2 separate regions of the Homo sapiens genome follow, and region 2 is reported to be linked to region 1. The links are microRNA targets in miRTarBase. Many come from high-throughput screens and were not tested one by one. Region 1 holds a microRNA gene; the other region holds the end of a gene's coding sequence.

Region 1 (3,152 bases):
AAAATACTATTCATCTCCATGGCTGAGCTTTTTGGTGTCCCTTACATTGTTCCCCCGGAGTCCAGGGCCTGATCCGCCTCAGCCTCCTGGGGATCCTGAGCTGATCACAGCAGCTTCAGGCCCTGGGTGTATATACTCAGGGTATGTAGAGGGTGCTTCCTCCTAAATAAAGACAACAGACGGGGCGGGGCATGCTAAAGTAGTTTCTCATTTAAGTGAGGGTGGGGGAACAAACCAATGTCCCAAATCACAGAAGATTCTTTTTTTCCAAAGAGTTCTGGAACCCAGAAGGGTTTTGTTTTTAGGAAAAAGGCATGAGCTTTGGGAAAAGCAATGGGCCCGTTAAAGCCCATGGATTCTGCCTGCTTTACCATGACAAGAGATGTGGAGGGAGAGGAATTGAAAAAGGCTTTGGGTTGGGGGCGGGGGTACCTTTGCACCTTGCAGGCTCATCTGTCCTGCTGGAGTATTAGATGTGACTTGATTGTCTCTGTGTCTGCAGCTTCTCTTCAAGCCAAGTGCCCTGCCCTGAAGCAGTTCAGGATTTGAGTGCCTGAGTCACGTGGACCCAGGTTCAAACCCCAGGTGTGCCTCCCCGTAGCTTTCTGACTGCTACTCTTGGGCAAGTAGGACTAGTAAGGTGCCTACCCTCATGGAGGTGACGTTCGTGAGATGAGGGGATGGCATTGCTCAGCCTTGGTTTCTTTATCTGTGCAATCAGGGAATAATGGGACTCTGCAAGGGAAAAGGAGACAATGTGTGTGAAGTGCCTGGCACCAGGGTCAGGGCAAGGGTGAAGCCAGTGAGCACCTGGGGGATAAAATGCAGGGAGGCGCTCACTCTCTGCTGCCGATTCTGCACCAGAGATGGTTGCCTTCCTATATTTTGTGTCCTGCTATGCTCACCCTGGTGCTGCCTGGCACATAGTAAGCCTCCAATTAAAATTACCTGCGATTATCATGCACTTAACAATGTTTGGTGCAATAATAAGACTATGAGAGCGAGCTCTAAGATTTTTAGGATTACCATCCGTTTGTGCAAACATAATTAAGTACTCCGAAAGCAAAACATCAATCACCAAGCAGCCCTAAAACATCCAAGGTGATTTTGATCAAGGCACCCCTGCCCCTGGACCCACAAAGTCCCATACCAGGAATCAGGGCTTGGGCAGTTCAGTGAGGACTGGATTTCAGTTCCCTGTGTCCCCTTGTACAGGAGGCAACCTGTAGCACTGTACCTGGCACTCCTGATAATAGCTGCCGTGTTCCTAGCACTGTGCGGGCACACACATGGAGCTGCAGGACTGTGGGGCAGGCAAAGCGGGGTTGTTCTTTCCTCCTGCAAGGTCTTTACTGATGTTGGGGGCAGAGGGCTGGTTCTGCTGGGTGTGCCAGCCTGGCCATGTTGGCGTCACCCTCAGCTGAGCAGTGAGGAGGGCCCCTGGGTTACCTACATTCCATTGCATTGATCGAAGGTGTTGCTTGTTTACTTGGTGACTAATTCTGTCACCATTCCACCCTTCAAAACCACCCCCCCTCCCATTCAACAGTCGTCTAGCTGCCTGCTGGTGATGAAGTTTCAGAAGTGCTTTCTCCAGGCCAGCTTGCATGGGGTTTGGCGTTTGGCCTGTTTCCAGGAGGAGGGCCTATTATTAATCTGTAACTACAAGGAGGCGACATGGACCATCAATCACTGTGTAAAAGAGGAGGGATTTGAGGGCAGCTTCCAGGAGGCCAATTCACTCATGGATCAGAACACAGAACTAACTCAATTATAACAATAATAAGATAAATGAATAATATTAGCAATAACTAACGTTTACTCACCTGAGTACTGCCAAGCCCTGGCGCTAAATCCTTACAGTGATTATCAGTGACCCTTCAATTGTTCAATCCTCACTTTATTTGATTTATTTATTTACTTATTGAGAGAGTTTCATTCTGTCGCTCAGGCTGGAGTGCAGCGGTGTGATCTCGGCTCACTGCAACCTCCGCTTCCTGGGTTCAAGCGATTCTCCTGCCTCAGCCTCCCAAGTAGCTGGGATTACAGGCATTGTGCCTCCACATCTGGCTAATTTTTGTATTTTTAGTAGAGACAGGGTTGCGCCATGTTGGCCAGGATGGTCTCAAACACCTGACCTCAAGTGATCCACCCACCTCAGCCTCCCAAACTGCTGGGATTACAGGCATGAGCCACAGCGCCCGGCCTAATCCTCACTTTAGATTGTACCATATATATTCCTTGCCTAGTTATAATTTTCTCATTGCAAGAATGAATATGCAGGAAATATTTTCTATTCCATGTTCTATTATATTACATATAAATATTTCATAAAACTATAACATCACTTATACAGCAGAAGAGACAGTAGAAAGTATGAAAATAGAAAAGTTAAAAGTCTAAACTCTGGACTTGAGTTTGCGAGGGTTAAGTCCTCATTCTCCCACTTACTAGAAGATGATCTGTATTAGTCAGCTTGGGCTGTGGTAACCAAAACACCACAGACTAGGTGGCTTAAACAACAGTCATTTTTGTTTTCTCATAGTTCTGGAGGCTGGAAGTCCAAGATCAAGGTTCTGGCCGATGCATTTCTGGTGAGACCACTCTTTCTGGCTAGCCAACAGCTGCCTTCTTGCTGTGTCCTCACACGGTTGAGAGAGAGACAGAGAGAGCTCTTTGGTGTCTCTTTTTATAATGACACTAATTCTATCAGATCAAGGTCCACCCTTCTGATTTCATTTAGCCTTGATTCCTTAGAGGCCACATTTCCAAATGCAGTCATATTGCACGTTAGGGCTTCAACACGAATCCAACACGAATTTTGGAAGGACACATTTCAATCCATAGCATGATCTTAAGTGAGGAGTTTAAGTTCCCTGGGCTCAGGTTCTGCATCTGTAAAATGGGGACAATAAAAATACCTGCCTCGGCCGGGCCCGGTGGCTCACGCCTGTAATCCCAGCACTTTGGGAGGCCAAGGCGGGCGGATCACGAGGTCAGGAGATCGAGACCATCCTGGCTAACACGGGGAAACCCCGTCTCTACCAAAAATACAAAAAATTAGCCGGGCGTGGTGGCAGGCGCCTGTAGTCCCAGCTACTCGGGAGACTGAGGCAGGAGAATGGTGTGAACCCGGGAGACGGAGCTTGCAG
Region 2 (3,000 bases), not on the chromosome of region 1:
ACTCAAGAAGCAGAGGTTGCAGTGAGCCATGATCTCACCACTGCACTCCATCCAGCCTGGGTGACAGAGCGAGACTCCATCTCAAAAAGAGAAAAATAAATAAATAATGGAATGCTCAATATTCACTATCCCACAACCCAACTCTGCTTGTCAAAAATCCACTTTTGGAACCCAATAAAAATGAATATGCAAGTTTAACATGTTGGCTGGGCGCAGTGGCTCAAGCCTGTAATCCCATCACTTTGGGAGGCTGAGGTGGGTGGATCACTTGAGGTCAGGAGTTCCAGACCAGCCTGGCCAACATGGTGAAACCTCACCTCTACTAATAATACAAAAATTAGCTGGGTGTGGTGGCAGGCGCCTGTGATCTCAGCTACTCGGGAGGCTGAGGTGGGAGAACTGCTTGAACCCAGGAGGCAGAGGTTGCAGTGAGCTGAGATCAGGCCACTGAACTCCAGCCTAGGTGACAAGAGTCAAACTCCGTCTCAAAAAAAAAAAAAAAAAGAAAAAAAGAAAAAAGTTTTAACATGTTTATGAAGTACCCATTACATGCCTTCTTCCATGAGTTTTTCCAATTCATTCCCACTAGGATCAATCTCGTCCCCTCTACTCAATTCCCATAACACTATTATTTGTGGCATTCATCACACAGTATCTGTAGCTTTATGTATGTTTTCTCTCCTAGTAGATTCTAAGCAACTTGAGAGTAGGAATGGTGCCTCCATCTTTATTTCTGTCTCCATCTTAATATCCTATACCTAGAAGATACCAGGAAGTGTCAGCTGAATAAATGAATCTGAACCTTAATCTCAAAGGCTATGCGGCAGTAAGAAATGGAATGGACAAAAGGAAACGTGAATTTGATATGACTTAAAGTTTTAGATTAAGGAAAACTTCCCTACCTGATTATATCTGTTTAAAAGAAGAGCAAAAGTGTTTTTAACAGATGGAATCTTGCTGTGTTGCCCAGGCTGGAGTACTACAGTGGCTATTTATAGGTGCAATCCCACTACTGATCAGCACAGGAATTTTGACCTGCTCCATTTCCGACCTGGGCCAGTTCACCCCTTCTTAGGCAACCTTGTTGTTCTCCACTCCCAGGAGGTCACCATACTGATGCCAAATTTAGTGAGGACATCTGACCTGCATAGCACACTACAGTGCAGAACTCCTGGGCTCAAGCAATCCTCCTGCCTCAGCCTCCCAAGAAGCTACAGGCAGTACAGGCAAGTGCCATTGCACCCAGCTAAAAGAAAAGCAAATTTTAAATACATACCCTGCTGGGAAACTAAAGTACTAAGTGAACAACACTTACGTGCTTGGATTAGTATAATTCACAGCTATACTATTAAGAAATCTCTGCTGTGTAAATTGGAATGCGAATTCCTTTTTTTTTTTTGAGATGGAGTCTCTCTGTTGCCCAGGCTGGAATGCAGTGGCGCGATCTCCGCTCACTGCAACCTCCGCCTCCCAGGTGCAAGCGATTCTCCTGCCTCAGCCTCCCGAGTAGCTGGGATTACAGGCACCCACCCACCATGCCCAGCTAATTTTTGTATTTTTAGTAGAGACGGGGTTTCACCATGTTGGCCGAGCTGGTCTCGAACTCATGACCTCAGGTGATCCACCTGCCCCAGCCTCCCAAAGTGCTGGGATTATAGGCGTGAGCTACCACGCCCGGCCTATAATGGGAATTTCTAAAATGTTGATATTTAATTCCACAATATGAACCAAGGAAAATTTTACTAGCAGAAATTTATGTATGTAATAAATCATTAGCCTCATATGCACATTATTTGAAATATGCATGATTGGTCATTTTAGTTTTCCCAATAATAATTTATCACTTATCTTATATCCCACTAGTCACACACTAGCAGGCAAATGGTAGCAAGTCTCAAATATGTAAGAAAGGTTTAAAGAAGAAAAAGTAAAAAAACCGTCCAGAATTCTATCCATTGTGTATTTTTCTGTGACTGGAGTTGACATAATTAGTCAATCTTAGCAATAATGTATTGGGTTCACTGGGTGTTCTGAGGATGCACCATTTGAACCACCGGTAAAAGGGTACAGAATGTGTATTGAGAGTCACTTCAATGGCTTCTCAATGACACCACACCAAAGGAGGAATACCTGAAGAGAGAATGGAAACACTGCAGGCAGGATGATTTAAGAACCTGGAAATAAGGAATTTAATCTTGTTCAGCTTGAGGAGTATAACTAAAATTACTATCCTGAGTAACCTGTACTAAATCCATCACTCTGGTAGAATCAGATCAGCTGAGTTTAAATGTCAAGAAAAAATAGACACACACAAAAGTGGCTTTGATTACATAAGTCAGAGGAGGGGGAGCCTACAATAGCTCTTCCCCACATCACACCCCCAAGGCTCCTTCTTAGGGACAGCAACAGCTTTGTCAATGACACAAATGCAGGGTGGCATGAGGTTTCCAGCAGCTTAACATTTTAATTTGGGGTGGGGGTGGAAGAAAATACATAAGTTGCTTTTTGCTCCCCCATCCTAATGCCTTGGGGACCAGCCAGGCTGACCCAAATGGAATCCAGAGCGAGAGTGGGGCCTTGGGTTCCCCGAGGAGTAAAGGGGGCAGATCCAGAACAGAGCAGAAACGGTGATAATTATCTGTATGAAAAAGTAAGGATACTCTAGGTGAGAAGGACTAGCATCAATCTAGATAGCAAACTGGGAAAAAGGAAGAGGAAAAAAAGGAAGAGGTGGCAGCAGGAATAATAAAAGAGAGCCAGACACTTCAGCCTGAGAAATGTGGCTTCTTTTCAGGGTTAGTGGGAAAGATACAAAGAGGCAGATTAGCATCAAGGATCAGGGATCCACAGCAAACAGATGAAGCCCCAACAACTCTTTTTGGTGCTGTTTATCACTTGGCTTGCTTCTGGGACTCAGCTCAATTCTTAGGTGAATTTGGTATTTCCCATCTTGGGTAGTTCCCTGAACTTTAATATCAGGGAACCAATTAAACACACCCA

Evidence for each region. Region 1 holds the annotated microRNA hsa-miR-4756-5p (CAGGGAGGCGCUCACUCUCUGCU, at 826-848, shown strand). A microRNA usually pairs through its seed, bases 2 to 8, with sites in the 3' UTR of a target mRNA and lowers its output. Matches are read on the target gene's strand: a 7mer-m8 pairs with bases 2 to 8, a 7mer-A1 pairs with bases 2 to 7 and ends in A, and an 8mer does both.
Region 2: miRTarBase lists TPM3 as a target of hsa-miR-4756-5p. The part of its 3' UTR that is shown has no 7-base or 8-base seed match.

What each region holds. Positions count from the first base shown.
Region 1 is chr20:54,066,148-54,069,299 of GRCh38, reverse strand. It overlaps MIR4756 (microRNA 4756), which reads left to right and starts at 815; the gene lies at 815-892. The region is part of intron 1 of BCAS1 (brain enriched myelin associated protein 1); the gene reads left to right.
Region 2 is chr1:154,165,303-154,168,302 of GRCh38, forward strand. It overlaps TPM3 (tropomyosin 3), which reads right to left. Exons shown (of 10, transcript NM_152263.4): 10 at 1-2,638. The coding sequence ends at 2,635. It also overlaps the pseudogene RN7SL431P. Among named protein-coding and RNA genes, the nearest start is that of NUP210L, 12 kb to the left of the region's middle.